2 separate regions of the Homo sapiens genome follow, and region 2 is reported to be linked to region 1. Evidence: microRNA targets listed by miRTarBase, many of them from high-throughput screens and not tested one by one. Region 1 holds a microRNA gene; the other region holds the end of a gene's coding sequence.
What was found. Region 1 holds the annotated microRNA hsa-miR-4458 (AGAGGUAGGUGUGGAAGAA, at 1,043-1,061, opposite strand). A microRNA usually pairs through its seed, bases 2 to 8, with sites in the 3' UTR of a target mRNA and lowers its output. Matches are read on the target gene's strand: a 7mer-m8 pairs with bases 2 to 8, a 7mer-A1 pairs with bases 2 to 7 and ends in A, and an 8mer does both.

Region 1 (3,260 bases):
TACGTCCACCACAGGTCACCAGTGGCTGTGCTCTAGTCATTCAGGGACACAGCTGGATGGAGGCTGCACCATCTGAGACACGGGGCACCTCCCTAGTCCTGCCAGAGCCGCAGTAGCAGTGGACCAGAGCTGGAAAGTCACACATGGAGCCTTAAAGTCTTTAAGCAATAAGCCACAACTAGTACCATGGCCCCACCTACTGCAAGAGGGCTGAGAAATGGGAGGAGTTCATAGCATGAGCAATCAATAACTGTCACTGATATCCAGGGAAGTCGTCTCTGACACAGGGAAATCTAAGCAAAGACCAACTAAAGAAAGAAGCTACACAGAAAGTTGGAGACAGGATGATGTCATTTATGATTCCAAGAAATATTCTGTTTGTCTGCCATTTGTTTCCAGTGAACAACCACATCAAATCTTTAATTTAGATATTTTGATAATTAAATGCATTAAAAATCTGTCTCTATTTCTATGCTTAGTTCAAGTAATAGCTTACCTCAGTGATTTTAACAGTCTTACATACCATATAGTATCACTGCCCTTACATTACATCCTTCAATAATTATCCCCTCCCGAGTAAAATCATAATACAAGGGCTGACAAACTCATTCTTGATTGACACACATCTCGACTCCTCACTCATTTCTTCTCCACATATTATTATTTTCTCATTACTTACCTAAAATTTAACCTTATAGATAATGAAAAGGGTTCTGAACATTAAGAAATAATAGAATAGTTATAAATGGAGGAAAAAGTTTGAATAAAAAAGTTTCTTAAAAGGATAGTGTCACTTGCAAAAATAGCTCTTTGAAATACAGGTTCCTATAAACATTTTACACGCATTAAGATATTACTCTTACACATACTGGTAACACAGACACTATACATATTTGTCTCCATTTTAGGAAGAAATGAAGCAAGGCTATTTTTAATAATAAACTTAGAAACAATTCATAACCCCTAGTATTTGCATTAACCTGCAAATACTAGGCAGCACACCACAGCAGAGTGTAACTAAAACCTAAAATAGTGTTTCACTTTCTTCCACACCTACCTCTGTGCGCTCATGCAAGTGTTTTTATTTTGCTTTGCATTAGATGCTTCTGTAATACAGGCATCTGATTCACCCCACATAAAGCTGTTGTAAGTAATCAATGTGAGAAAGTCTACTTATTGTTAAGCATATTTGTATATTTTTTACTAGTTATTTCATACTTGCCCTGAAAGAATACACATTCAAAAAGCTTGAAATTAGGCAATGTCAGTCTCATCAAACAAAACCAGCATTGGAAGCGAATATTAACAAATATCAGAATGAAATTACAAAATATACATCTCCAGCCTCATAAAACATGAATTTTATAAGCACTTTCATAAACATAAGAAAAATAGCTTTGACAATAACTATTTGAAAACATTATTATTAATAATCTTGTATACTGTACATGTGCACTTAAATGTAATAGCACCAACATTCATTATATTATGAAGGGGATACTTTATAAGAATTATAAATTATTTTTACATGATTAAATAATTTTGGCAGAGTAAGTCCGCAGGACTTAAATAACCAGTCAGCCTTAGTATCTACATCTGGACCAGGAAGCCTTTGTGTTACAGACACAGATTCCCTGTGAAGTTCTCCAGGGTGTAAAGAAGGCCCCAGGGAGGTGCCGACGGGATGTGAGGGCTGCCTTTCAGCTCAGGCGAGCCTGCAAGCAACAGGGCAGTTTGGGAAGGGTCACAGGCACAGGAAGGGAGCAGTGGGCAACCATTGATTACATCAAACCAGGATGGTTTCTTCTTTTTAAAGAAACTTTTGTTGAGTGTTTACCCACCCCCATCCACACAAATATGCTCTCTAGGAAATGTGAAAGTATAAGCTTCAGAAAAATGTTTTTCTCATCCTTTAATTTCTGGTTTTATGATCAAATGTTCCGAAGACACTGCTTCTTTTTGCTCAAAATAGTTGACATTGTCATTGCTTCTAGTTTTTCAGCTCCTACTATGCTTACTATGTCCATGGGTGCCATTGACGTCTTTGGCTATTTATCATCTCTAGAAAAGAAAAAAAAACATTAAAATTTTAGGATGTAGGATTCACAATAAATCTCTTACCAAATCCTCCTTAAATCCCTAAACTCTCTACCTGGCTCTGACTCCAGGATCACCCTTTCAGTTCTTTCCATGTTTTTCTTCGGAAAATGTAGTTTCCTAACCTTTCTACCCACCCTTCTCGTCTACTCTTAGGTCTGCAGCCACAGTGATAGTTCTAAGTTGCAAACCTGATCATGTCCTTCCAGTACTTAGTCTTTCAAAAATCTTCCTACTTCCCGCAGAGTGAAGCCTGAACTCTTTAATAGGCATCTAAGGACTTGGACCCGGATCCTGTTAACCTGTTAATTCATCTTTGCCTCTAACTCCCTCCCTTCATCTTTCAAGGCACAGCGCAGGACTTAACTCATTGTGAAAGTACTAAGCCTTGATGTATCTTTAGGAAAAACACACGTATACACACACACGCATGCAAAGAGAGGAAGCATAGCTTAGTGGTTAACCTACATAGACTGCAACTTGCTTAAATAATCCAGTATTTATCTATGTTTTAATAAAATTGTTTTAATAAAAATATATGAAATTCATCTATCTTTTCTCTGGAATGCTTTTGCCTGTTCAAAGATTATACAATGCTCCCGTATGTTACAGAGGAAGCCGTCCCTTCATTTATAAAAGACAGTTAACACATAGCACAAAAACTCTAGAGTAGGATGGATCCGCAACTACTGTACTGGAAATATGCTAAATTAGGGTTCTGATTAGAGTTAATGGAATTAACTTGGGTGAGAGAAAATACTCACCATTAATCTAGGGGTAACAGAGGAGTTAAACTCCAATTCAGAAACAGAGCAGTTCAAAATCAGAATCTAGAGTCAGCCTACATGGGCTTGATCTGGGAATGTGCCCTTTATTAGACGTGTAACCTTGGGCTGCTGCTTGACTGAATAGGTCTTCGATTCCTCATGGAATGAATATAATAAGATCTGATGAATGCAATTAGACAGTGCCTGAAACAGTAGTCTTAAGTAGGTATTTTTGTTGTCCCACTTTTTGAGAAACAAAACCAAAGTCAATTCAATTAAAACTGCAGGTTTCTTGATTTCATCCTAATACTTTGCAAATTAATCACAGAACCCAAGTGAAATTGCCTAGACTCTCAAAGAGTTCGAAAAACATTTCTAATACACTCAAAATTTTCC
Region 2 (3,000 bases), not on the chromosome of region 1:
GGAGGCTGAGGTGGGTGGATCACCTGAGGTCAGGAGTTCAAGACCAGCCTGACCAACATGGTGAAACCCTGTCTCTACTAAAAATAAAAAAACTAGCTGGGCATGGTGGTGGTGGTCACCTGTAATCCCGGCAACTTGGGAGGCTGAGGCAGGAGAATCACTTGAACCAGTCGGGGGCGGAGGTTGCAGTGAGCCGAGATGGTGCCATTGCACTCCGGCCTGGGTGACAGAGCAAGACTTCAGTCTCCATCTCAAAAAAAAAAAAAAAAGAATCCCTTTCATTCCCTACAATGTGATGGATTTAAAATGATTATCAAATATCAAATCTAATTCTTAATTCCATTACAGCATATATTTTGTGAAGAGTGCATGACCTTATGGTTTAACAGAGAGAAAACATGTCCACTCTGCAGAACTGTGATTTCAGACCATATAAACAAATGGAAGGATGGAGCCACTTCATCACACCTTCAAATATATTAAGTTGTATAAACTATCAAGGCCACAAAATACTAATGTCATTTGGTCATAATGACTACTGATAAGGCATCAGAATGGATTTTCAGGGCTACCAGAAAAATGTTTCCAGATGGTTTTAGAATGTAGGACTTATGATCCAATTCACCAAAAGATTAAATGAAACCACCCTGTGTTTTAAAATATATATAATGTTCAACCTAATGTATATGCAACATTTATTCTATTCTAATTATTTGACAGGTAACTGCAGTGTTAAATTGTAAATGTGTTTTCTTTATGTTACCAAAACAGCAATTTGAAATTAGAACTAGTGGTTTTAGAGAACTCAGGTATTCTTTCCTGACATTGTTTTCAGAATAAAGAATATTTTTCATAATATTTTAAGATACATACTATCTAAAAGTAGAATTTTGTTCAGCATTGACTTTTATAATTCCCATCCTAAAAATTCTTAATATTTTCATAAAATTTGTATTTTTAAATGAAAATTCTAAATGTTGTATTTTATCAGTAACATTTTCTAAGTGAAGATTAATTTACTGAGGATGATACATTATAGTATTGTATTATTCTCTGTAGTAAGATTAGTAATAAGTGAAAATAAATGATTTAAATTCATTTTGTCTCTGGACGTCATAAATTCTTCCTGCCATCAGCTTTAATGTTCATGATCATGCTTTTTGTATAGTACCATGGAGTATCTCGAAGTAACTATTAAAATAATTCATGTGGATTATAAACAGCTGGCTTACTTGATGATTTGAATAGTATAGAAAACAAGACAAATGGCCAGGCATGGTGGCTCACACCTGTAATCCCAGCACTTTGGGAGGCAGAGGCAGGAGGACTGCTTGAACCCAGGAGTTCAAGACCAGCCTGGGCAACATCCCATCTCTATTTAAAAGAAAAAAGTTTCAAGACAGATGCCCTAAAATCTTATAAAAAATTGCCCTTATAATTAGTCTTCTCCATAAAAGTTTTGGAATTTTATGCTTGAATCACCATCAATTGGAAGATTGAAGCTCGCACTGAGAGGTGGTCATGAGGTTTTGATAGTGTGGTTTGTTCGCCTCTAGGTATTTGTGCAGGGTGCTAGAAAAGAGAATGAAGCACTTTCTCCCCTTGTTACCTCTAAGGAGGAATCTGAAATCTAAAACATGTCTGAAGGGCTGCTAGTGCTTATATCCAAGTTTAGAGTACATCTATCAGTTTGTAGTCGAGGAAAAGGTGGTAGAAAGAACTTAGGAAGCAGAGGTAGAAAACAGATTTGCTGTACTGATAAGACAAAAGCTAAACTAGCAAATGAATTGTTTAGTTTAGCAAACTGACCAACTGGTTATAGAAGGCACTTCCATGACTGTACAGCCATCCAAATTGACAAACAAACATTAGGAAGCCTGTACCATTTTTTTCTCTCCAGGTAAATACTACCAGGTTGTAAGTACAACTATATTCAATTACAGTATATTTTACTCTGTTATCTACTTTGAGACCCACTACAAATATTATTTAAATGGCTTTGTGGTGATGCTAATAGTTGTATTATTTAGGTATACGGCAGAGGATGGGTGAGAAAAGCAATGTGGGATTACAATTCGGCTGTGAAGGATAGCCAAGATGACTTCCTGTTCAAATACAAGAATAGCATTTTACTTCAGCCCTATTAGAATACCTATTTAATACATTTGCTTACTCTGTAACTATTCAGACAGCACTGTTTCTTAATGAATGTGATTACATAACCAAGGAGGTGCATGGTGGGGTTTTTTTTTGGAATGCAGTTTACCTATAAATTGAAAAGGGAGAAAATCTAATGGAGCTATGCCATCCAATAAAAATGCTGATGAACTGGAAGCATTTCTTCCATCCCTCTATTCCTTCACCTCAAAAACAGGTAATGTAGATTCAGAAACTCATTTACTCTGTGAATTCAGATCATGGCTTCTAAAAGATTGTTTTACCAGTATTGATAGGCTACTATGTTGTATAGCAAGGTAAGATCAGTTTGAGAGCTTCTGTAGAGAAATCCCCTTGGCAAGTGTGGTATAATTACCTCACAGAAAAGAAGTGGTTAATGCAAAATACCCAGCTTACACTAGATATATTGAGACATTAGTTAAAACACATTTGTTCACTACGTTATTTTGTGCATACATATCAAATTATCAAATGTAGCTGACCAAGTGTAGCTGAACAGATTGTTGATTGTTAGCACAAGAAGGTCTTCCTAGAGTTTTTTATGAAGCTAGCTTTCACGTAGATTGTTACATGTATTTTTTTAAGTAAACAATTCATATCTACTATCTGACATAACTTGAAAATCAAAGATGTGTAACATCTAACTTAAAAATCAATACTAAAACTTGTTATATACTTAAATAGCTTCAGTTTCTCAGCAGAACAGCTTTTAACCCATTCCTTACATACATAGTTTATTTATATGACAACTTGAACACATCTGACATGTTAAAATAAATTTAAACCATTTATACACCTGATACGTATACTAATTCCTTCCTA

Region 2: miRTarBase lists RNFT1 as a target of hsa-miR-4458. The part of its 3' UTR that is shown has no 7-base or 8-base seed match.

The regions. Positions count from the first base shown.
Region 1 is chr5:8,458,734-8,461,993 of GRCh38, reverse strand. MIR4458 (microRNA 4458) reads right to left here and starts at 1,069; the gene lies at 995-1,069. It overlaps MIR4458HG (MIR4458 host gene), which reads right to left. Exons shown (of 2, transcript NR_039989.1): 2 at 1-2,061.
Region 2 is chr17:59,950,460-59,953,459 of GRCh38, reverse strand. It overlaps RNFT1 (ring finger protein, transmembrane 1), which reads left to right. Exons shown (of 9, transcript NM_016125.4): 9 at 349-1,220. The coding sequence ends at 483. It overlaps RPS6KB1 (ribosomal protein S6 kinase B1), which reads right to left. Exons shown (of 15, transcript NM_003161.4): 15 at 2,886-3,000. Among named protein-coding and RNA genes, the nearest start is that of RNFT1, 13 kb to the left of the region's middle.